Linked DNA regions of Homo sapiens: regions 2 and 3 are each linked to region 1. The links come from fine-mapping of genetic effects on gene expression. A gene starts in region 1. Each other region holds a variant in brackets. All regions are shown on one strand. Distances are from middle to middle.

Evidence for each region.
Region 2: its variant is fine-mapped to the expression of UBE2E3 in whole blood (TOPMed, PIP above 0.99).
Region 3: its variant is fine-mapped to the expression of UBE2E3 in whole blood (TOPMed, PIP above 0.99).

What each region holds. Positions count from the first base shown.
Region 1 is chr2:180,976,196-180,984,379 of GRCh38, reverse strand. UBE2E3 (ubiquitin conjugating enzyme E2 E3) reads right to left here and starts at 3,775. Exons shown (of 6, transcript NM_006357.4): 1 at 3,407-3,775; 2 at 2,144-2,362; 3 at 287-337. The coding sequence starts at 2,337. It overlaps UBE2E3-DT (UBE2E3 divergent transcript), which reads left to right and starts at 3,368. Exons shown (of 2, transcript NR_187176.1): 1 at 3,368-4,314; 2 at 4,714-7,050. RefSeq lists a silencer at 3,498-4,357.
Region 2 is chr2:180,440,801-180,448,984 of GRCh38, reverse strand. No RefSeq gene overlaps it. Among named protein-coding and RNA genes, the nearest start is that of SCHLAP1, 250 kb to the left of the region's middle. The variant TTTACCAC/C (reference allele first, on the strand shown) is at 4,961.
Region 3 is chr2:180,555,234-180,563,417 of GRCh38, reverse strand. No RefSeq gene overlaps it. Among named protein-coding and RNA genes, the nearest start is that of SCHLAP1, 130 kb to the left of the region's middle. The variant G/A (reference allele first, on the strand shown) is at 3,145.

The sequences.
Region 1 (8,184 bases):
AAACACCCTCTACAGAAATACATCAGAACAAAAATCAGCACCATTCATATGAATATCAGAAGCACAAAATCAGTATATTCATAAATCCACAATGTATACTTATGCTAAAAAGTATTTTTTCTCCCAATTTTATCTAGTTCACCTTCTACAATTTTTGTTTAATGCACTTGCAAAGCTGTAAAGAAGCAAATGTTGTCTCCTCTGCTGCACACATATCCAGACAATACATCAATCTCTTGGTATTTTTCCACAATTTGAAACCAAAACAACAAAATTCATTTCTTACCTGCAATTAGGAGGAGGATCAAGGGTTATTTCAGCTAGCTCCTTCTGAATTCTGTTAGTGAAATGAGAAGAGACAAAAAGGATTTGATATAGTCTACAGAATAACCAGGGAATTACACTGCCCTCTACCACCATGCAGTTAAATGCAAGGCTGGCTCTGCCTTCAGTAATGCTAACATGGCTGCTTCCTCTTTGTTCTCAGAGGCATAACCCAAATCCCTTAACAGAAACTTTGCAGCTTTTTTTCTCACTTGCTGCTGCAAACAAGTAAGTCATTTACACTTGATTGGAGAAATACTCATCCACTAGTACTCAGTAAAGAATATAATATCTATTTCAAAACACTTTTTACCAAAGAAATTCTCTTTTCAAGCTTATATGCAAATGAGACAAAAAGGGAGGAGGGAAAGCACTGGAATATTTGACAAGGACTTGAAGTGACTTTTACTGAGGTAAAAATTAACAGGCTACTGCAAGAGCACATTAACAGTTCTGACAATATTTTATCTGTCAAAAAAAAAGTTTAAAATTTACAAATATCTTTACTTGTGAAAAACTTTCAAAGACTACTTGACATTCTAATTTAACCATTTCTGTTTTCCCTGATTTTAGGTACAGCACTTAAATTTAATAAACATTGAGAGAAAGAGGAGAAAATACATAGGCCTGAGTTAAGGGGGAGAAAAGCAGTTCTCTGATTTGATTCAAATTTAAGATGATTTCAAAACTTTAGATGTGTCTAATATGTTCCGCATCAACACTATACCAAATTGAGAATTTTAAATTATGTCAAAGACTGCTGCCATTCAAAAATATTATCAAGTTATTAATACTTCATTACTGAGACAATAAGGGTGAAAATCCATAGAAAAATATGAGTATTTATGAATCACCACAGAATGCAATATTTGATCAGTTTTTATATTCTTTTTCCTTTAGTTATCAATAAAAATTAACAAAATGTCAAAATTGGTTAATGCTGTAAACATTATACATTTTATGTATAATTACTAGAGTTTGTGGATATTCCACTACTACTACCACTGATAAGAGTCTCATTGACAGAATCTTTTTTTCTCCATCAGAAAACATCAATCAATAGGAAACAAATGATCTTTCACTTACATCCAATTAAATATGTTTCTCCTGCTGTTGAGTATTAACTTGTCAAGCACATCCACAAGTTTCAGAGTGAAGAGGCCCAAGGACAATGCAAGTTTTCTATCACTAGTGACACCTCAAATTGTAAAGGGCTACTTTTCAGTTTGATTTGCCCTCACAAGCACAGGAAGGGATAATCATAATTTAACCAGGAAAGTTACCTGTGATATACGATTGAAAGTCATGTTTTGTAAAACTGTAAGCAGATTTGCAGCACAATTTTAAATCTGCTTTCAAATATAGCAAAGGCCTGAATTTGCAAATTTTCTAGCAAATATGATCATTTCTGATCATTAAGTTTCATGAAGAGAGGCACTGCTAATCTCTGGAAGTGTCAATTTCATTAAAGAAGATTATGACTCATAAAAGGAACATCCCCAAAGTACCATCTAATTTGGGTTCACCAAATTTTCCTTGCCAACTCCTTAAACAATCTGTCAGAATGTTAGTCTAATCTCTACTCAAGGACACTCTTAACTGAAGTTACCGAAGTACAGAATTAAGTTTGCTTAAAAGTATAATTCTAGTAATGTTGCTTACATACCACCTAAAGAATGACAACTCATTCAAGTACAATTAAACTGATAATGAAGTAAATATTTCTGAACTACTGCTATTGAGGTAAAACCAACAAAAGCGTCCAACCACCTGGAAGACAACCTGACAAAGTGTGCTGGATCCTTCTTTTACACATTACCTTTTAGCACTAGTGGATAACTTAGCAGTGGTTTTGCTAGAGAGTTTGGTGTTTTTCTTCTGCTGGGTGGCAGAAGGTTTTCTTTCCTCTTGTTCTTCAGGCTCTGGAGCGGCTGGGTCTCGCTGGTCCGCATCTGAACTGCCACTGCTGGTGCTGGGGCTCTCATCATCGGACCTTTGCCTATCACTGGACATCTTGGTGAAGTTATCTCTTGGAAAACTTTTAAAGAGAACAGGGGAGGAGGAGGAGAAAATGTTAAATCTAGGAAATAAACCAACAGCATTTTCTTCTAGTCATCTAAAATCGTCTTGTAATGAAAAAGCTTCAAAAGTGTTCACACTTATTTCATCGTACAACAGGGGTACGTACAAGGGAGGTGATGTGTCACACAACGCCAGCGTTAAGGGATTTGCCGAACTCAAGTTAGAAAACCCACTCACATTTTTTTCCGTCTCTTGGACAATCTATCAATTGTCTACTTTCTCAGAAGGCATGAAACAGATTTGCCAAGGAACTTAGGCAACAAGCATTAATAACATATGACACACTGTAAATAACAGATCTCGCTGAAAAATGTTTAAAAGTCACTAATAACGTCTAAATATTTACACACTGACATTGGTCAAAGCTACCAAATTCCCTTTCCGAGAGGAAAACACACCCTGTTAATCGCCCATATGCTTATTTAAGGTGGCGATTCCTCCTCAGTGCACGTAAAGCCTTTAAACACAACACTTGGAAATTTAAAAATCAACTAACGAGCTGCTCTAGCTGTTTCCACGGCCAGCAGCGAAGATTCATCCGGCCAAGACCGAGCTGCCACCCTGGGAAAAGCAGAATTCAAACTGCACCTTCTGCAAAGCTCCCAATGCCACCAAGGTTCCTCGCTCAATTTTTATATCACGGACCGACATTTTGTCCAAAATAACGAAAAAAATAAGAAACCCAGAGAAAAAACAAACAAATAAACAAAGCCCCAAGAAGTGCAACAAATTTCCGCGCCCGCGGAGGCGAGCCACGGCCGGCGGCGGCGGCCACGCAGCTCCGCGGCCCTTTGTGGGGAGGGCCGCGCGGGGGCCGCGGGTAGCGCTCGCCGCGCCGGGCGCCAAGTGATGCGAGCAGCCCAGCCGGCCCCGCCGCGGCTCGCGGACACCGGCGACGCGGGCGCCCGGCGCGAACAAAGCTGCCCGCCCCCGCCCCCTCCCCCACCGCCGCCGCCGCCCCGGCCGCCCCCCACGCGGCCCCCCGGCCCCGCCGCCTTACCTCGGCCGCCCGCCCGGCCCGCTCGCGCGCCGCTACGGTGTGGGGGAGGGAGAGAGAAAAAAACCCTTCCTTAAGGAAATGGAGGCAGCTGTGGGGGGGGGAAGGGGGGGGAGGGAAAAAAAGAAGCCGAGGAGGCTCTGGCCGGGGAGTGTGGAACATTGAAAGTCGGAGGGGGTTGTGCAGTGCCGGGCTCCGGCCGGAGGGTGGCGCCGCCCAGCGCCTTCGGAAAAAAGCGGGGGTGGGAGCTCGGCTGGGCGAGGGCGCGAGCTCCCGGCGAGGCGGAGGGGACGCGGGAGACCCCCGCGCGCTGTAGCCTCCCGCCGCCGCCGCCCGGCTCGGCTCCTCCCGGCCGCGCAGTCAGCAAGTTCCGAGGCGAGCGCGGGGGGGAGGGGCGGGCGCGGCGGCGACGCGCGTGCTCGCTGCTTGCCTGGCGGAGGGGCGCGCGCCGCCGACGCCCGGCGGGCGCGAGCTGTTCCCGCGCGCTCCCGTGCGCGCTCTCCACACCTCCCCTCACCCTGGGGGTGCACGCGTCCGCCCGCGCGCGGCCAGGACAAAGAGCGCGGCGGGGACCCGGCGGGCTGGCCCCTGCCGCCCTTGGCCGCGGAGCCTGTGCCAGAGAAGGCGGGGGCGCGGGCACCGTATCGCGGGGCCGCTGTGCCGCGGGGTGGCTTCCGGCCTGGGCCCGCCTCCGGGGCGAGGCTGCCCATTGGGCTACCCGCGTCCCCAGGGCTGGTTCCATCCCATCCGCCTGCGCGGGGGCCGTCGTGGCTCCCGGGGCCCCAGTACCTGGGCAAGGGCCCTGGGCGCGTGGTTGGGAGTCCCCCGCCGCCCCGGGAGACGGGAGACTAATGGGTGTTGTTGACGAGGCCAGGCACGCAGGCGGAGAAGAGCTGCCACTTGCCCCTCGCGTAAGCTGGAGGAAGGGACAAGTTGGGGTCCTGGGAATTGAAGAGGGTAGAATGTATTTGGAGATTAGGGGAACAACCTCTATTTCTTTTTGGCTCATAGCTTGCAACTGTCGCTGCCAAAGGGAAGTGTCCTTCGGATTATTTGAAACCTTAAAAATCCAAAACAGTGTTTAAAATGTCCCGCTCAACATTCTTAAAAGTGAAGGAGAAGAGTTTGGGGTTGGGGGGTGGCGATGAGAGCTAAAACATGACACTTTTCTGCGGGACTCTTCTGTCTTGCACATGAGGAGCCAGTTCTGGAAAGAAAAGTTCTGAGTGATGTTGAGTCAGAATGTCCACCCAGAAAAGCTTTAGGTGGAGATAGTGACAGTTTTGTTTGTTCTACCATTCTTTTTGCAGTCTCCAGGTGGACTCTGCGGTTTTTACCCCACGGCACAAAGTAGCCAGAATACAAAAACTTCCTGTTTGCCACCCAGGCCTTCTCCAGCTACTGAGAACTTGTTCCGGTGATGGAGCCTCAAAGGAATTTGTGGATTCCTCTCCCACAAGTGTCCAGGGGCAGGGGTGCTGTGAGAATGTGCAGTTCACAAAGGGAGTGAGAATGGCAGTCAAAAGATGTATAGAGTTAAGGGAAAGAAGAAAAGACTGAGTGAGCCAACGTATTTGCTTACTATTTCTCCTAATAGAAAACTTTTGGTAAAGGCTTGATAGCAACTCTAAAGAGTAAGTTACATTTCCATAATTTTCCAAAGACACAGTCATTCAGTTAACTTTATTGAGGGCTATATGTTGCTAGGTGCTGGACATACACTCATTCAATTGCTGTGTGACTAAAGCCAGGTCTCTACTCTGTGCTAAGAGCTCCTAGTCCAGAAGGGGAACAGTTCATTAAAGTTCGCTAGGTTCATAAGTAGTAAGGATATTCCACTCAGAATGAACAGATAGAATATCTCATGCCTCAAAAAAGATCATGGTCTGTGTGTGGACAAGCATTTTGATTTGGCTGGGTCAAAGAGTGCTTGTGGGAAAAGCTTGTTAGTGAAAATAAAAGCAGAATTTTCCCCCAGCTTTACACGATGTGATGTTACAGCAAAAGCCAGCCAATTTGGAGTTGAAGCTTTGCTTTGTTTGGAATGGGGAGACAGAAAAGGAAAGCTGTACGTTAAACATGGGTTCTTTTAGGAAATTTAAGAACAGAAATAGCCTGAAGGCCCAAAGGCCAATTGCTGATAGGATTTAGTGGGGTAAGGAGCTTAGGGGAGAAAGATATTTAGTTGTTTGGTAACATCTTCTACAGAAGAAATAGTATTGGGTTGAAAAGCCAGGGAAGTGTATTCTAATCCTCATTCTACGAAGTTCATATGACCTCAGGCAAGTTAAGTTATTTCAATTACTTTTATGTAAAAGGAGATTGTATCAAAGGTTCTAAGTCCTCTCCTGCTCAAAAATTCCATGATTCCGTGATTCTTTGGCGAACTTGAAGTCATGGAGTTTAACTTAACATTCACCCAACAGAATATTTAGGATCTACTAACTGCTTGGGAAACTGGAGTGAAACATGGGTCATGCTCTTAACCAAGCTCAATTGTGCAGTGGGGCAGCCAGAAACGTAGCCTGCAGAATGAGAAGTGCTGTATTAAAGAAGTAAAGAGAATGAGAAAAGAGCATTACTAATCATCAATTAACTAATAATGGAACTATTAATTCAGGTTGGAATTGTGGGGCATGAGGTAAAGGTCAAAGAAGGAAACATTAGATTGGTCCTGGAGAGAGCACTAGGGCCAGTGATAATGTAGATAATATAGATAATGCTCTTGGCAAAATACCTGGAATTTGGGTGTTCAACAAATAATACCTATTGTTAAAGTCACCGTAAAGATAATGAATGGCTCCATAAGGTTAGGGGCAGTAGTGCCCTGCCCCTACAATGTGAGGTGCCTGGCTGCCTTCATTCAGCTGACTCAAGGGGTTGCTCAAATGATTTCAGCTCACAGCTCCTCTCCCAGGTGACTTGGCATCACCTCCACCAGAAGTAACTTGTAAGGTGTAAATTGTTTCTAATGTTTAGTTCTTCCTTGTGTGACAACCTGTTTTGTAATTATTTTTTCTCTCTTGTTTTTGCTATGTCAATCCTTGAAATTAAGGATCATGTTTCACAGGCACTCTTGGAAGCATACAAATTTGACCTAATGCAATTATTTCATAAAATATAAAAAGGGCCCTTTTCCCATAAGGTCCCTCAGAATAGTTCCACAAGCAGACACCAGCTACCACAAAGAAGATTGTTTCCTCTCAGTCTCTTTTATTTTCTCTTGTTGGTGTGGGGTCCTGCCAGCCTCTCACAACCCTGAGAAGGGCAGTGGTAAGAGGGAAGATGCCGAATCCAATTGCAGTATTACAATGATTATCTCTTATCCCCTTATCCACCAAATGTTGTGACAAAAAGAGGCCTGCCTAAGGGCAAATAAGGCAGACCCCAGAATCCTTTGCACCTCCCTAGTTTGGGAGATGCTTTTTCCTGCGCCTTTCAATGAGTCTCAGTGTTATCTGTGTACATAACTGTGAGTATGTATAACTAAGAATTTCACAGGATCTATCACTGAGTTACCTAAGAAGTTTCTGAATTGAATGATTATGTAAGCTGGGGTATAGACCTCTACTTATCCACCATGACCAGCAGCATCCCTCACATGTAAAAAATGTAGAATAAATATGAATTTATTTTGTTGATTTTAAGGTACTTTGTTTCCTTCCAGTCAATAACTTTTCTAAGAGTCCCTTCATTTTTACTGGCTGTTTCTGATGCTTTCCAGTTACTTGTATCCTCAGTTCTCTGGCTAAGAAATTTTCTTTCTCTACCCATAAAGACTGGATTGGTTTACTAGGAAGGTATTTCTTGGCTCAGCCTTAGTTTACACAGCCTTGTTTGTCATTGTTAGTCCCAGTGTCTTTGGACCCCCAGAATCCAATGTGCCGCTTGACATCTGGGTGCACTTCCACTGCATCCTGAGGGGAAAACCTGCTGTGTCCTACACCAAGGGCTGGGCCCTGGAGTTGGAAAGGTGCATAAGCCTTGGTTTGACGTCAGATAACTCAGTGATTATTTTCTGTATTTCTCTTTTGAGATAACTCTCAGGGAAGGTATATACCAAAAAAGGCTCATGTCATGGTAAGGAGCCTGTACACATGAAACAAAACCGTGAGCACCTTAGTATGTCAAAAGGCAAAAATTTTTAAAGAAATATTTAACATTATAACAAAAATGTAGTCTTGCTAGTTATCCAGAAAGGAAAGTTGAAATGAAATATCTATCAAAATAACAAAAACAATTTTTAGTTATTATAATAATTCCTGGCAAATTGTTTTTTAAAAAATCCCTTTGTCCATTTCTAGTAGGAATGAAAATTGGTACATGTTTCGAAAAGGAATTTGGAAATTTTTTTCAGGAGCCTTAAATGTGGCCATACCCTTTGACCAGATTTCTCCATTTCAAAAGAAATGTACTTCAAGGAAACATTCTAAAAGTGAGAAAAATGATACTGAAAAACTGGAAATGTCCAACAATATGCAAATGATTACACATACTGATTCACCCACATAATTAAATTTGCCATTATTAAAATAACAGTTGTGAAAAGCAAGCTAAAATACAAAAACAGATTATTATAAAATACACTTAAGGTAGAAGTTTGTCTATTTTAGTTACTGGGAAATCAGAGCCTGCCTCAATACCTCTCAAGGTACCGAGCACAAAGTAAATCATCTATAAATATTTGTTGAATGAATATGCATCATATTTTTACAATAAGCAAAACAAAAATGTCTGAAAACAAAAGGTTGACCAGTACCTAGATTTTAGAGTGACTATGA
Region 2 (8,184 bases), 540 kb after region 1:
TCACAATAATCCAATTAGTTAATTAGAAGCAGTTTCCAGCATAAGATCCCAGTCTCTCCTTTGGTTACTTAGTCTGGTGTTTTCCTGATAATGTATACCTAGGTCAGTATATTTTTCTATAAGCCGGTTTTATGATTCTTAAGTAGACCTAGAAGAGCCCAGAAGGCAACTGGAAGGGAAAAGTGAGAGAAAGGAAAAGAAGAGGTAATTACTGTCATGAAACCATTGGAGTTTTATAAGACAAATACAATTTTTGTAAGCATAATTTTTATTGCAAGTGATTTAAACAAAAGAGCAAAAGGACTTTAGTCTTTTCTGCCCCCATAAGCACTCTCTTCATGCATCTATTATAAAATACAGCAAAATACACTATATTTTAAATTCCTATATCTTTCCCTCTATCATGGCAGGGACTTCCCAATAAATTCTATACTCATTGTGGCCAGCTGAACGCCTGACATTTAGTAGACTCCTCAAAAATGATTTTTGAATGAATGATGACTGACCAACTGAATGAATGACCAATCTTAAAGCACCAGTGAATGTTTTTACTGTCTTCACAGAGCTCAGAATAGATCCTTGGAAGCCATTCTGGAAAAGGGCAACTTTCCAAGGATGTTTTCAAAAAGACCAACATATAAGCACGTGTATTTGGTTGACCCTCTTTGCCACCCTAGGATATAAATTAAATCACATCCATTTTAATACTTAAAGTAATTTCTGGAAAACTTTGTATGCCAAAAACAACAACAACAACAACAACAGGACCTCTAGTATCTGCCCCCTTCCCCCCTCCATTCGCCTCTACCTTAACTGGGAGGCTTAATTCGTGTGAAACAACCAGCCCTCCTCTGAAACAGATGTCAGGTGATTATCTGAGGCTATAAAAAGTTTCCCAGAAAGCCAGATTGGGGATGATTTGCCTTTTTTTGGCTGTTAAGAAATGACGGGTTGAAAATTACTTCTAAAAATTGTTTAACAATCTTATTGAGATGTAATTAACTTATACTACAATTCATCCATTTAAAGAGTACGATCCAAAAGTTTTCAGTATATTCACAGATTGTTGTTCTGCATGTTTTAATGCTTTCCTGCCATTGGCTCCAGTAGTAATCTTACTGGCTCATATATCTGCTCAGACCACAGTTGATTCCTTCAGGAAGGAGAATGCAACTTCTTCTGGTAGTATTCAAGGTCAAGGGTACTCCATGCTTAAGCAACATAGCTTAAACCTTCATGCTTTAAGCTTATAAGTCCAATCACTGTTACCACAATACAACACTTGCCCCAGTGCCAAGTTTCCTGAATAGAAGTAAATTCAGGGTTTAAAACAACCATCCCTTAAGATCTGACTATTGAGCTCTGGTTAACAGTCCAGCCTACCTGTAGTATACATGGAAATGTGCTACGCAGATCTCACTTCAGAGAAAGACTGCCCAACTGCAAGAAGTATAGTCAACAGATAGCCTTCATCCGTTAGCTTTTTTAGGATATGCTTTAGCTGCAGAGTTGCCTGGCCCAAGGGTCAACTTTTTGGAGTCAGCCAATATCCAGTCACTGGGCAAAGCAGGGATATAAAGGCCTGGCCATTGTGGCCTGACACAGGAAATTCTGATGTGGACAATACTCACTCTAGAACTTTCTGCAGGGTTGGTGAAGACTTCATCAAGCTGCTTTGCAATTTGGCCCCTTCCTCTTTTCAAAAGTGCTCCTTTCCAATCCTTGTCATAAGTGTTGATCTCTAATAAACATCTGGCATCTCAGACTCCATCTCAGTGGCTCAGGAGTAACAGCTGCTCTCAGCAGTGGTTTGAGAAAGCAGGCAATAAGATTGTTTTGAAGCTAAATCACTCATACCCATGTGGAAGAAGACACCACCACCGTTTGGTGTTTAGCACCAATAGCTTGTGGCATAAAGTGGCAGAGCCGTTGTTAAAACTTCCACTGGAGGTTAATTAGGAGGTTTTACTAGTAGAAAGGAGTACACTGGGCTCAGCCTATCTGGTATTTGATAAATATGGAAGAAATAGTAGCTATAAAGATAATGGAATTGTGTGACTATTTCTAAGTGCCATGGATGCTCTACAGAAAGAAACTATACAGCAAAGGGTAAATGACAGCCAACTGAAATCCTGGCATGAAAGCCAGTGAACCTCTTTGGTTACATAAATACAATGAATTTCTCTTCACGCACAGCAGAGGGAAGAGAAAGTTGAGAACCACACCCAGTACCTAATAGTATAAGTGACTTTATTTCGAAGAAAGTTAAATGTAAAACCACAGCAAGCCTGTTATGTGTGGATGGGGGAAATGTGTGAGTTTTCTGGGAAAACCCCAAAGTTGTTGTGATACCTAGCCAATGTGTACTTATAGAAGCCAGGAGAATTTGCATAGAAGTGAATTCTGGGCCGGGCATGATAGCTCACGCCTGTAATCCTAGCACTTTGGGAGGCCAAGGTGAGCGGATCACGTGGTCTGGAGATCAAGACCATCCTGGCCAACGTGGTGAAACCCCGTCTCTAATAAAAATATAAAAATTAGCTGGGCACAGTGGTGCATGCCTGTAATCCTAGCTACTCGGGAGGCTGAGGCAGGAGAATGGCTTGAACCAGGGAGTCGAGGTGACAGTGAGCCGAGATCACGCCAGTGCACTCCAGCCTGGGCGACAGAGCAAGACACTATCTCAAAAAAAGAAAAAGAAAAAGAAAAGAAGTGGATTCTGAGGATGTTTGATCAAGAAGACCAGAACATTAAATTAGCTAGCAAGCACTTATCGACTTTGGAACGCTTTCTCCAGATGCACCCTAGCAAAGATTCCACTACAGTGTGAATTCACTACTAGGATAACTCCTATAAGCATAGAAAAATGATGATCCATTCTGAGATCAGTTGAAATGTCAGAATTGTCATGGCAGACAGTGAAGAAAAGAAATCAAGGGCTCAGGGAAGTGGGCATCCTGGAATGAATATATCACATAAGGTTGGAAAACCACCACATGATTACATTCCATAGGAAGGCCAAGAAGACACACTATTTGCCAAGGACACAGGAATGCAGTGATAAGAGGTGTACCAGAAAGTTTAATGGTGGCTTTCCTTTTCAAGTCAACGTTGACAATAGGAAAGCTTGTTACATAAATTGGCTTATTGACAGCAACAGGGGTAACAGGACCCCAAAAAACATAAAAGTAGGTAGCAGCATTTAACTTCCGAAACCAAAGGATTGTAATCATTATAACAATTAGGCAGGTCAGGGTTGCACCCAAGAGAACCTGAGCTGAAAAGAGTTATGGAGGTAGTTAATGCAATACAATATCCCAAGTGTCATAGAAATGCATAACCAAAAATGGTACTATCCTAGTTCTCTGGCCCTGTGTCATGTGTGTAGGAGAATTTAGATATCATGTAGAATACCAACTGACCCATTTCACTGGTAACTTTTTATTGGTTGGGCCAGATGAGCAAGCGGTGGCTGGTATACGTGAGGCCTCAATAAGTCATGCGTGCTCTAAAGGGAAGGAAATAAATTTTAGGGACTACCACAACCATAAAATGTTTAGGGGTTCAATGGTTAGAGGTGTAGCAAGACATCCTCTCCAAAGTAACATACAAATTATCATAGCTTGTACATCCACCGTGGATAAAGAAGAACCACACTGGTAGGCTTTTTCCATCTCTGAAATTGGTGCATTCCACATCTATATTCAGAATGATATAAAAGACTGTCAGCCTTAAATGGTGTACAGAGAAGTAAAGAGCTCCACAACAGGTCCAAACTGCTGTGCAGGCAGCCCTCGCACTTGGACCATATGATCTGGCTCGCTCTGTGGTGCAGGCAGTATCAGTGGTGTGAAAAGTTGTCATATGGTAAGTCCAAGTGGAAGAACCACAAAGTAGATCCCCTGAAATTTTAGGGCAAAGTCTTGCCATCTGCAGTGCACAATTATACATCTTTTGAAAAATAATTCCAGGCAGGCTAGTGAGCTGTGGTAAAAATGAAATGCCTGACTATAGTTCACCAAGTGAACATGTGGCCAGAACTGTCCATCATTAGTTAACTCCTGTGAGACCCACCAATTTATAAGTTAGTGTAGACCCAGGAGCAACCCATCATAGTATGAAAGTGACTATGCAAAAACAGGGTTGGAATCAGCCACTGAACCCTTCCCTCAGCTGATTTTTATAGCTGTATGGGGGATCTTGTATGACCCATTGAAGAAGGAAAATACTTCTAAAAAACATATTAGGTATAGTGTACCTGTTCATTAATTTTGGATAAAATTAGTGAAGTTATAATGTATTCAGACTCTTGGGCAATGGTAAAAGGCCTATCTGACTTTTCAGGATTATGGAAGGAAAACAAAGTTTGGGGATGAGGAGGCTGTGTTAGATATATGGGATGTCTATTAGATGGATATATATGGGATGTCTATGAAATGGGCATATGGGAATGGGCATGAAATGGGAATATACATGTCATATGTCAATGCTTACAAAGGAATATCAATCACAGAAGACTCTAATCAACTAAGTACACAAAATAACTCAAGCAGTTGGTGTCAGCCAACCTCTGTATTCAACCTCCCCAGTGTTGACTAAGAGAAAAAATGAATTAAGAGACCACAGTGGCAGAAAAGGAGATTATGCATGTGCCAATGCATGGACTCCCACCTTTGAAGTCCAATTTAGCTGCTGAATTTCTACCCTACCAACACCAGATATCAGTGTGGAGCCCTTGATGCAACACCATTCTTCAAGGAGTCCAACCAGTCGTACAAGCCACCTCCATTATGGAAGTGCCATTCTTTTATGCTCACAGGACTAGATTTAACATGTATTCCAGACATGAATTTGCTTTTTCTGCCCAAAAGCCTTAGTCATCATTCTAGCTGAGGGATTATGAAATTTCTGATCCACTAATATGTAATCTAACACAACACTTCCTCAGACCAGAAGACCA[TTTACCAC/C]ATAGGAAGTGCCACTGTGGGCCCATACCATGACATTCACTGGCTGTATCACAAGCTCTCTCCAGATGCTGCTAGTCTAATAGAGCCTTGGAATGGCTTGCTAAATGAGTAGCTAAAGCCCAAATCAGAGGCAGTGCTCTATGAGGTTGGGGTGCCATTCTCTGGATATGCAGTATTCACACTGAATCAAAGGATTTTGTGCAGCTTTGTGTGTCTGATAAGAATGCAAGGGCTCCAGAACCAAAAAGTAGAAGCAGAAATGGCTCCTGTACTACAGTAAATAAAGATCCTTGAACTTGGTGCTTCCTGTCCCTGCAACGGTGCTTTGTAGAGTTAAAGGCCCTGATCTATAAAAAGGTCACAATTTCACCAGAGGACAAAATAAAAGCTCTGTAGAATTATTAGTATGACTGTTGTCTGGAGATTTGGGGGAAAAAAGGAGTCACCATATCAGCAGGAGTAACTGAGTTAAATCATTAAGGGTTAGGACTGCTGCTATACAGTGGAGACAGTGAGAAATACATGTGACACTCAGATGATTTGGTTGAGTGCCTCACAGTAATCCCTTGCCCAACTGTAAGTGTAAATGGACAGATCCAGCAGTGCAGGCATGAGGAGGACATGGTAACCATAGATCAGACTTCTTGGGGAGGACAGTCTGAGTAATGCTACCAGACACATGACCAAGGACAGCAGACATAGTGCCTGATGGTGCAGGACCTAAAATGACTAGTATAGGAGAAATAAAGTAAATAGCAATATTGGTCCTGAGATCAACCATAGCAGAGCAACTGTAGTTAGTTCTGCTAATTTCCTTCTTTTCTATTTCCCCTAAGGAAAAGTGGCCCACCAGAATCCTGGAGGAGCTGTTACTCAAATATATGTGTATACAAATGACAAAACAGGTAGACTATGACAGATATAGAGATGTGCCACCCAAATCCTCCTTCAAGTAAGGACTTGCTGCCTTGGGGTTGCCTCAACTGATTAGTCATCTACTGCTGCTTACAAGCTATCCCCAGAATTTAGCAGCTTATAAAACAAGAATTTTATCTCAAATTTATGTGCATCATGAATTAGCACATGGCTTCGCTGGTGCCTCTCACTCAAGTCCTGTCCAGGATTGTAGTTCAGCTATCACCTGGGGGCTGCAAGTGTATCTGAAAGGTCTATTGTGTGTGTTGGTGTAGAGGGGCTACTTCCAAGCTTACTGATGTGGTCCCTCAGGTTCTTCACAATGTGAGCCTCTCCAGTGGGCTACCTCACAACATGGCAATTGGCTTCCTCAAACTGAGTGATCCAAGAGAAGGTGTGAGAGGAAGCCTCACCCAAGATCATGGCCTTTTTAGGACATTCTGTGACTGAGACACATTCTGTGACTGAGTAAGCCCTGGCTAGAAAGGCCCAGACACTTCACTCTGGCATGGGTCACTCTGACCAATAATACCTTGAAGCTCCATGACAGGTTGGCCCAAGCATCGTCAGGCATACATGACACTCAAATTCTTCCTCTGGCCAATCCTGCTTCCTCTTTTCTTTGTCTCACAAGAATTGAGCCCTAATTTTGTATTTCAAAGTCTATCTCTGTGTCTGCCCATGGAAAACCCAATCCTTTTCCTTCCTGGATAGTAAAATTCACTAGGGGAGGGGAGTATTTTATTAATTTCCTACCCTGGCTGATTGTTTTCCTTCTGGGAATCTCCAAGTCCTCTGATATGGTTTGACTCTGTGTCCCCACCCAAATCCCATGTCAAATTGTAATCTTCAGTGTTGGAAAAGAGGCCTGGTGGGAGGTGATTGAATCCTTTGGAGTTCCCCCTTTAGAAGGGATGTCCCCTTTGTTGTTTTCATAATAGATTTCCAACCAGATCTGGTTGTTTGAAAGTGTGTAACACCTCCCCCTTCCCTCTCTCTCTCTTTCCTGCTAGCCATGTGAAGATGTACCTGCTTTCCCTTCACCTTCCACCATGATTTTAAGTTTCCTGAGGCCTCCCCAGAAGCAAAAGCCTGTACAGCCCACAAACCATGAGATGATTAAACCTTTTCTAATACTCTACTTCCTCGTCACTGGCCAGATCTAGAAACTAAAGGACAGGAAGGGCCGTTCTCTCCCATACCACAGATGGTCTTGTTCTATTTTTTTCAAGTTGGAGGGTACCTCCTGGCCTTATATGTAATTTGTGTGTGTGTGTATGGAGGTGATAGAGAAATTGGGGAGAAGTGTTCAGAGACTTTCCTGGAATTAAGGAGTCCATGTTACTCTTACTAATTTACCCTAAAGACACAAACAACTTATAGTTTTCTTTTCTTTTAATTTTACCAAACTGACGTACTAAACAAATAATGTTATCATATTAGAGGTTTTCTCATAAAAGTGCATGGAAATTGTTAGGAGGCATATCCAATGAAACAAATAACTTGGTTTTATTTTTGTTTTTGTTAATAATCTAGTGATTAAAAAATTTTTAAATTTGGAATGCACATACTACTTATGTTCCATCTAAAAATATATATTCTTCAATAAAATAAGAATTCTCCAATTCTCTGAAAAGTACACAAATGATCAAACACAGTACATACAATTTAGAAGCAGAAGCATAATAAAAATGCAAATTAATTCAAAGGTCCATAATGAGATCATTTGGCCATATGGCCACTAATGAAGTTTCTAATTGCTAGAACATCAACACCCAAGTCAGAAGGCAAAGAGGAAAAATTCTACTGTCTTTTAATTTCCTTAAAAGATTTTGAATTTTAAGAAATATTTTCCATATCTGAAACATTTTTACACCAAAGTGTATTGAAAACCTTGCACTACATGGAGTTTAAAAAAAAGTTTGAATTGTAAATAATTCTCCATGCTGTAGGATGAATAAAAAATTAAAATGTTTTATCCATAATTTAGCATACAAAATGTATGCCAACAGGGATTCTATAATGAATAAAATTAATTTATTCATTCATCCAAGAGATTAATTAGCATCTATAATGTGCCAGGAACTGTTCTAGGCACTGGAGAGATACAGCAGCAACCAAAACACATATAAACCCCTGTCTTCATAGAGTCTTCATTCTACTCAGGGAGACAGAAAGTGAAATAATACATTTAACAATAATAAAACTAGTACATTAAATAGCAAAAAGTTCTAAAAATAAAAATAAAAGCAGAGGAGTGATATGAAGAGTAGGTATGGAGATATGTAAATGGTGATGTTTA
Region 3 (8,184 bases), 420 kb after region 1:
CTTTAGCGTATTTTTGAACGTCTAAAGAAAAGCGATTTAGAGTGATTAAAAATAAAAAGTGTCTTTTTAATTTACTTTCATTTTAACTATTCCTAGAGTTCTTCATTTGCCTGCTTGTGTATAGATTCAAATTTCTGTCTAGTATCATGTTCCTTTGCCTAAAGACATCTTTGTTTTCTGTCTGCTTGTTTTTTGAAATATTTCCTGTGGTGCAGTTCTGCTGATATTAAATTCTTTTACATATGTATATATGTATGTTTGTATGTATGTATTCTGTTGTCTCAAAAACTATTTCACCTTCATTTTTGATAGATATTTTTTAGCATTTCTATTTGACTCTTTTGAATAGTTTTCATTTCTTTGCAAAAGTCCACATCTGTTCATGGCTGTTGACCATGTTTTCCATGAGAAATTATAATTTATTAATAATAATATTTAAAATTTCCTGTCCAATAGTTCCAATATTTGGGCCATTTCTGAGTCGGTGTCTGTTAATTGCTTTATCTCTTTCCAGTGGGCTCTTTTTTCTTACTTGTTTGTGAGCCTTCTATTTCTTCTATTGAATGTCACTCATTGTGAGTAGCTCCAGTAAGGACAGGGAGAAATAATATATGTGCCTGAAAATGGGCATCCCTCTTTGCTAGACCAACAGTGCATGCAGTTGACTCAATCTACTCCATATCTGAGCTGGTTTGAGTTTTGTTGTTCCTATTGTTTCCTTGAGTGTATCACAGACTTTAAATCCTGGAGGGTTATCTTGTGTTTATCTTGGGAGCTGGGTTGCCAGAGCGTTTTGCTGAATGTTTCTACTCCACCCTTGGCTTTCAGCCTTCCCTTTGTGCCTGCACCTCATAGTGGGTGTCTCAATCCTCTTATCGCTGTCACAGAGATAGACATTTGTAGCTTGCGAATTGGGACTTTCTAACCTTATTATAGAAGTGGAAAGGAGTTTCTCTATTGTCCTGCTCCAGCCTCATTCTTAGGCTGGCCTTGTGTCCCTGGGCCTTAGGGATGGAGCTTTGGCAGTCATCCTGCTGCTCACCTCCCTGGCAGGCAAACCCTCTTATATTTTTGGTAGTTCTTGTGTGGGACTTTCTTGCTGCTCCGGTGATAGGGTTGAGCATGGTTTCCTGTTTCCTTAAAAATAAAAGTTTTTTTTTCTTTTACTCTTTCTCAGGCTGTAATGGATCTTAATTTGTGCCCTGAGGTTGACAGGGCTTACTGCTCTCTCTTCAAGGGCTTAAAACTCACAGGAGAAGATGGTTCTGCCAGGGCTTTGTGCCTTTCCTGCAGTGGTGGCCTCTCCCCTCCTCCAAGCCATAAAACAAAGTTCGATTTTTATTGTTTTCCTGCCCTGGCATCAGAGTTTCTCATCAACACTAGTTGTGTTCCATGGAAAAGAGGATGAGTGGGTGCAAATCCCCCTTGTGTTTATGGCTCCATGGATTATATGGTTTTACACCTACCCACAACCAGCCTTTATCAATTCATTAACAAATTCAGTTAATTTTTTATCTATTTGTAACGGCAACTCTTCCTTCCATGCTCTGTGCTTGTGATGGGCTTGTGTCTCATTTTTCCTTGAAGATGCATCCTTTTTATTAGATTTTAGGCTACTTGGTTGCCCTGCATCTTTCGGTCTGTGGTTCAAATAATTACAATTGTATAGTTTATTCAGCTTTTTGTATTGTAGTTGTTAGAATAAAAACAATGCTCTTTTCAGCTTTCAGCATTTTAAATAGGTATGGAGACCCTAGAATATTTTTTTTTCCACAAGATCTCCCTCTGTTGCCCAGGTGGGAGTGCAGTGGTGCAATCTAGGCTCGTTGCAACCTCTGCTTCCTGGGCTCAAAAGATTCACCTGCCTCAGCCTCCTGAATAGCTGGGAATACAGGTGGGTGCCACCATGCCCAGCTAATTTTAGTAGTTTTTGTAGAGATGGGATTTTGCCATGTTGCTCAGGTTGGTCTAGATCTCCTGAGTGGTGATCCACCTGCTTCTGCCCCAAAGTGTTGGGATTAAAGGCTGTGAGCCACCATGCCCAGACCCAGCATACCTTCATGAGTGGAAAAGGATGCTACTAACAGTTATACTGGAAAGCAGTATAAGCAAGCACTGGCCAGGGAAACTGGGAAGCATGGTCATTTTACCTAGGTGGGTCTTTTGTGCTGTGCCCCTGCAGCTCACTTAACTTTTCCTTGTTTCAAATGCCTCGCTCCGCTGGTGAAAATCCTACTCTTCAGTTCATTCTTGATACCACCTCTTCTAAATTGACTTCTCTGATCCGATTTGCCAAACCTTTTCTACAATTTTTGCCTCGGTATTATAAGTGATATGGATTGATCCTCCCTTCCCATCCCCTATAGTTATGGTTTATTATCATGCCTATAAAAATGTATTGAATACATTGATAACCTTTCCTGCTTTGTATATACTCTAGACATTTGTAAATAAAATATAACTTATGTTACTAAAATGTTTGAAATAACTCACCTATGACATGGATATGTTAATTAGCCTAATTTGCTCATTCCACGATATATGCATGCATGGAAGCATCACATTATACCCCATAAAAATATATACAATTATTATTGCTCAATAAAAATAGAATAAAACAAAGAACTGACCTCTGAAACTTTGAGCCAGTCTCTTTAGAGATGAGTAGGATAACTTGCTAATTTTTAAATTGATCTATTTAGTTTTATTATATCATCTTCAACAAGTTTTAGTTAAATGTAAGTCTTTCAAAATTATATGTTTAATCCTGATCATGTTTTTCAACATTGTGTGCCATGTAATATTCAATTATAATTATTTTTATAAACCTTATTTATCTATGACTACTCAGCATTTTTCCTTCAAACTTTCTACACATATTTTCTTATTTTTAAAATTAATTGAGGAGAAAAGCCACCTCTGGTAAGAAAATAATTATCACATATAGTATTTTTGTTTTCTATTCTATTGATGTCTGCTTTAATCCCTATTAATTCCTTCAACCTACTGTGCTTAGGCGTGTTTATTTTTTCTATGTTCTTGAGTTCTTAGTTTTGGTAGGTATATTTTCATTTCTATTTGGTTAATAGAAGCATTTAAGTTACAAATGTTTTTCTAAACACAACTTTGATTATAAGTTTCATC[G/A]CATGGTATTGTTTGCAACTGTATAATTGTACTTTCAGTTTTCTCTTTTGATTAAAAAATTATTTAGCAATTAGTTTTAAAATTCACCTATTTGCTATTTCTGTGTATGCTATTGGCAATAATTCTAATCTTATTACATTTTGTGTTAGGCTGAGATATCCAAGAACAAGATGCCAAGACAGGATTAATGTACAAAGATTTAATTAGAGGACATGCTCGCGTGAAGGGAAACAGGAAGGAAACTGGGCAAAGCTGGGAGAGCTACCATACAGCAATGCAATGCTGACCCTGAGTGAGAGAGGGTGGGAACTGTTGGCAAAGTATCCTAGACTACTACTGTGCAGTTTTGAAGTTTCGACAGCGCTTTTGAGGACTCCTGGAGTCAGTTAGCTGAAAATGTAGTCCTCAATCTCCCAGGCATAAATCTTCCTAACTATAACAACCGCACTCAGCCTTTGTTGTAGAAGGGCTTGTGGGATGCATGGCCTTGGTGCAAATGAGGTGATAGATTTCAAAGTGTAGCATCCCAGACCTCATTCGGTTATGTGCCCTATGCCTGGATTTCTGTGAGGTGAATTCTCATGGCCACCACCCACCTGATCAGAGTGTGTTCTGTACTGATTCGTATGTTTATAAAATTTTTTTAGATTCTCTTTGGGTCTAGTTCAAGTTATATTTTGTAAACTTTCCATGGCATTTATAGTACAATAATTTACGTGTACTATAAAAAGGTAGATAAATGTATGAAATAAATATTATTCATTTTATTATTCAATTCCTTGATTTCATGTTCTACTTTTTATCCATTTGATCTGCCAAAGACTCAGAGAACTTTCTGTTGTTGTTTTACTCATGAAGCTTTATGTATTTATCAGTACTCTTGTCAGGGGAACATAAATGTGAGCTCACAGTTAACCTGTTTGAATAACAAACATTTTTCTTTGCCCCATGGAAAGTTTTTCCATTGAATTCTAACTTTTTTGGTATTAACATTATTAACACATGCTTTCTTTCTATTTATTTTATATTTCTGCTTATCACATTTAAACAATAACTTTGTGTTACTTTCTAGTAGATCTTTAATAAAGAGCATATATTTCAATTCTCCTTTTGGTCTAATATGATGATTATGTTTTTGTAAGTAGAGGAAACTAATCTATTCACATTAATATAATAAACAATAGCTTACTATAGTCATATTAAGTTGTATGTCTTTTCTCATGTTCTGGGGAGAGTGAAGTTTATTCTCTCCTTTGCTATACATGCAAACTTTTTTAGTGATTGTGAAATCACTTCTTCAGTTTTATCAATTTAGTGTTTAGATTCAATTTTAGAAATAGGTTTTTTATTTAATTTTATTTTATTCTAGGTTCCAGGATACATGTGCAGGATGTGCAGATTTGTTACATGGGTAATCATGTGCCATGATGGTTTGCTGCACCTATCAACCCACCAGCTAGGTATTAAGCCCCACATCCTGATATTCCTCTCTCCCCCTGCCCCTGAAAGGACGCCTGTGTTTGTTGTTCCCTTTCCTGTGTCCATATGTTCTAATTGCTCAGTTCCCATTTTTATGTGAGAACATGCAGTGTTTGGTTTTCTGCTCCTGTGTTTGCTGAGGATAACAGCTTCAAGCTCCATCCATCTCCCTGCAAAGGATATGATCTCATTCCTTTTATGGCTGCATAGTATTCTATGGTGCATATGTAACACATTTTCTTTATCCATTCTATCATTGATGGGCATTTGTGTTGATTCCCTGTCTTTGCTTTTGTGAATAGTGCTGCAGTAAACATACACGTGCATGTATCTTTATAGTAGAATAATTTATATTCCTTTGGGTATATACCCAGTAAAGGGATTGCTGGGTCAGATGGTATTTCTGGCTATAGATCTTTGAGGAGTCACTATACTGTCTTCCACAATGGTTGAACTAATTTACATTCCCACCAACAGTGTAAAAGTGTTTCTGTTTCTCCGCAGCCTCACCAGCATCTGTTGTTTCTTGACTTTTTGTAATCGTCATTCTGACTGGTCTAAGATGGTATCTCATTGTGGTTTTGATCTGCATTTCTCTAATGGCCAGTGATGTTGAGCTTTTTTTCATATGTTTGTTTGCCACATAAATGTCTTCTTTCGAGAAGTGTCTGTTCATGTCCTTTGCCCACTTTTTAATGGGGCTGTTCATTTTTTTCTTGTAAATTTGCTTAAATTCCTTATGGATTCTGGATATTAGAACTTTGTCAGATGGATAGAATGCAAAAATTTTCTGTCACATCCACTTGTTCCAGAGCTGATTTCCAGTCCTGAATATCCTTGTTAATTTTCTGTCTCAATGATCTGTCGAGTATTGACAGTGGGGTATTAAAGTCTCCCACTATTATTGTGTGGGAGTCTAAGTCTCTGTGTAGGTCTCTAACAACTTGCTTCATGAATCTGGGTGCTCCTGTATTGGGTTAACTATATTTAGGATAGTTAACTCTTCTTGTTGAATTGATCTCTTTATCATTATGTAATACCCTTCTTTGTCTTTTTTGATCTTTGTTGGTTTAAAGTCTGTTTTGTCAGAAATAAGGAGAGCAGCTCCTGTTTTTTTCTGCTTTCCATTTGCTTGGTAAATTTTCTTTTATCCCTTCATTTTGAGCCTATGTGTATCTTTGCACATGAGATGGGTCTCTTGAATACAGCACACTGATGAGCTTTGACTCTATCCAATCTGCCAGTCTCTGTCTTTTACTTGGTGCATTTAGCTCATTTTTATTTAAGGTTAATATTGTTATGTGTGAATTTGATCCTGTTATCATGATGCTGATTGGTTATTTTGCATACTAGTTGATGCAATTTCTTTACAGTGTCATTGGTCTTTGTATTTCAGTGTGTTTTTGCAGTGGCTGGCTGGTACCAGTTTTTTCCTTTCCATATTTAGTGCTTCATTCAGGAGCTCTTGCAAGGCGGGCCTGGTGGTGAAAAATTCCCTCAGCATTTGCTTGTCTGAAAATGATTTTATTTCTTCTTTGGTTATGAAACTAGATATGAAATTTGCTTGGCTAGATATAAAATTCTGGGTTGGAAATTATTTTCTTTAAGAATGTTAAATATTGGCCCCAAATTTCTTCTGGCTTGTAGGGTTTCTGCTGGGAGATCTGCTGTTAGTCTAATGAGCTTCTCTTTGTAGGTGACCTGTCCTTTCTCTCTGGCTGCCTTAACATTTTTTTTTTCCTTCATTTTGACCTTTGAGAATCTGATGATTATGTGATTGGGGTTGATCTTCCCGTGGAGTATCTTACTGGGATTCTCTGGATTTCCTGAATTTGAATGTTGGCCTGTCTTGCTAGGTTGGGGAAGTTCTCCTGGATGATGTCCTGAAGTGTGCTTTACAACTTGGTTTCATTCTCTCCATCTCTTTCTGGTACCCCAATCAGTCGTAACTTCAGTCTTTTTACATAATCCCATAGTTCTTGGAGGTTTTGTTCATTTATTTTCATTATTTTTTTCTCTGACCTTGTCTGTCGGTCTTATTTCAGCAAGATAGTCTTCAAGCTCTGAAATTCTTTCCTCCACTTGGTCTATTCAGCTATTGATACTTGCGGTTGCATTGTGAAGTTCTCAGGTTGTGTTTTTCACCTCCATCAGGTCATTTGTGTTCCTCTCTCACCTGGCTATTTTGGTTAACAGTTCCTGTAATGTTTTATCATGGTTCTTAGCTTTTTTGCATTGGGTTAGAACATGCTCATGTAGTTCAATGAAGTTCATTATTACCCAGCTTCTGAAGCCTACTTCTGTGAATTCATCCATCTCAGCCTCTGCCCAGTTCTGTGCCCTCGCTGGAGAGGTGTTGTGATCATTTGGAGGAGAAGAGGCGCTGTGGCTTTTTGAGTTTTCAGTGTTTTTTCATTGATTCTTTCTCATCTTCCATGAGTTTACCTAGCTTAGATTTTTGAGGCTGCTGACCTTTGGATGGGGCTCTTGTGAGGACATTTTGTTGATGCTGTTGTTGTTGTTGCTGCTGCTTTCTGTTTGTTTGTTTAACAATCAGGACCCTGTTCCGTAGGACTGCTGTGGTTTGCTGGAGATCCAGTTCAGACCCTATCCCTTCTGCATCTAGAGGTGTTACTAGTGGAGGCTGCAGAACAGCAAAGATGGCAGCCTGCTCCTTCCTCTTGGATCTCTGACCCAGAGTGGCACTGACCTGATGCCAAAGGGAACACTTCTGTATAAGGTGTCTGTCTACCCCTTTTGATGGGGGGCGGGTCTCACCCAGTCAGGAGACAAGGGATCCAGGACCCACTTAACGAAGCACTCTGGCTGCCCATTGGTGGAGAGGGTGCACTGCACTGGGGGAAATTCCGCTCATCCAGACTGCCTGGATTCCTCAGAGCCAGCAGGGGGGAAAGACTAAGTCGGCTGATCTGCAAAAACTGGCTGCTCCTCCCCCTACGGGCTTCGTCCCAGATAATTCAGGGTTCTATCCATAAAGCCCTTGCTGGAGTTGCTGAAATTCCCGCAGGCAGACCCCACCCAGTGAGGAGGCATGGGTTAGGGTCCGGCCTAAAAAGGCAGTCTGGCCACGATCTGCCACAGCCACTGTGCGGAATTCCTCCTGGGTCGAAATTGTCCAGTCTCCACCGTACTGGCAGGGGAAAAAAATGGCAGACTGGAGCCGCAGTGATGGCTGCGCCTCTCCCCCCAGGAGCTGAGTCATCTTAGGCAGCAGGCAGCCGCAGTGAACTCGGTAGTTTTAGGTAGTCTCCGGCCAAATGGCTGCTGAGAGTTTGCATAGCTCTGTCCTTGGGACCCAAGGCCCTGGTGGCGTGAGCTCACTAGGGGGATCTCCTGATCCGGCTGTTGCACAGATCCGTGGAAAAAGCGTGGTTTCCTGGGTCGGGTAGCACAATCACTGACCACCTCTCTTGGCTGGGGGTGGGAGCTCCCCTTTCCCCCTGTGGCTCCCAGGTGGGCCCTTGCACCACCCTGCTTTTCCTCACTCTCTGTGGGTAACGCCAACCGCCTAGTCAGTCCCAGTGAGAAAACCTGGATACC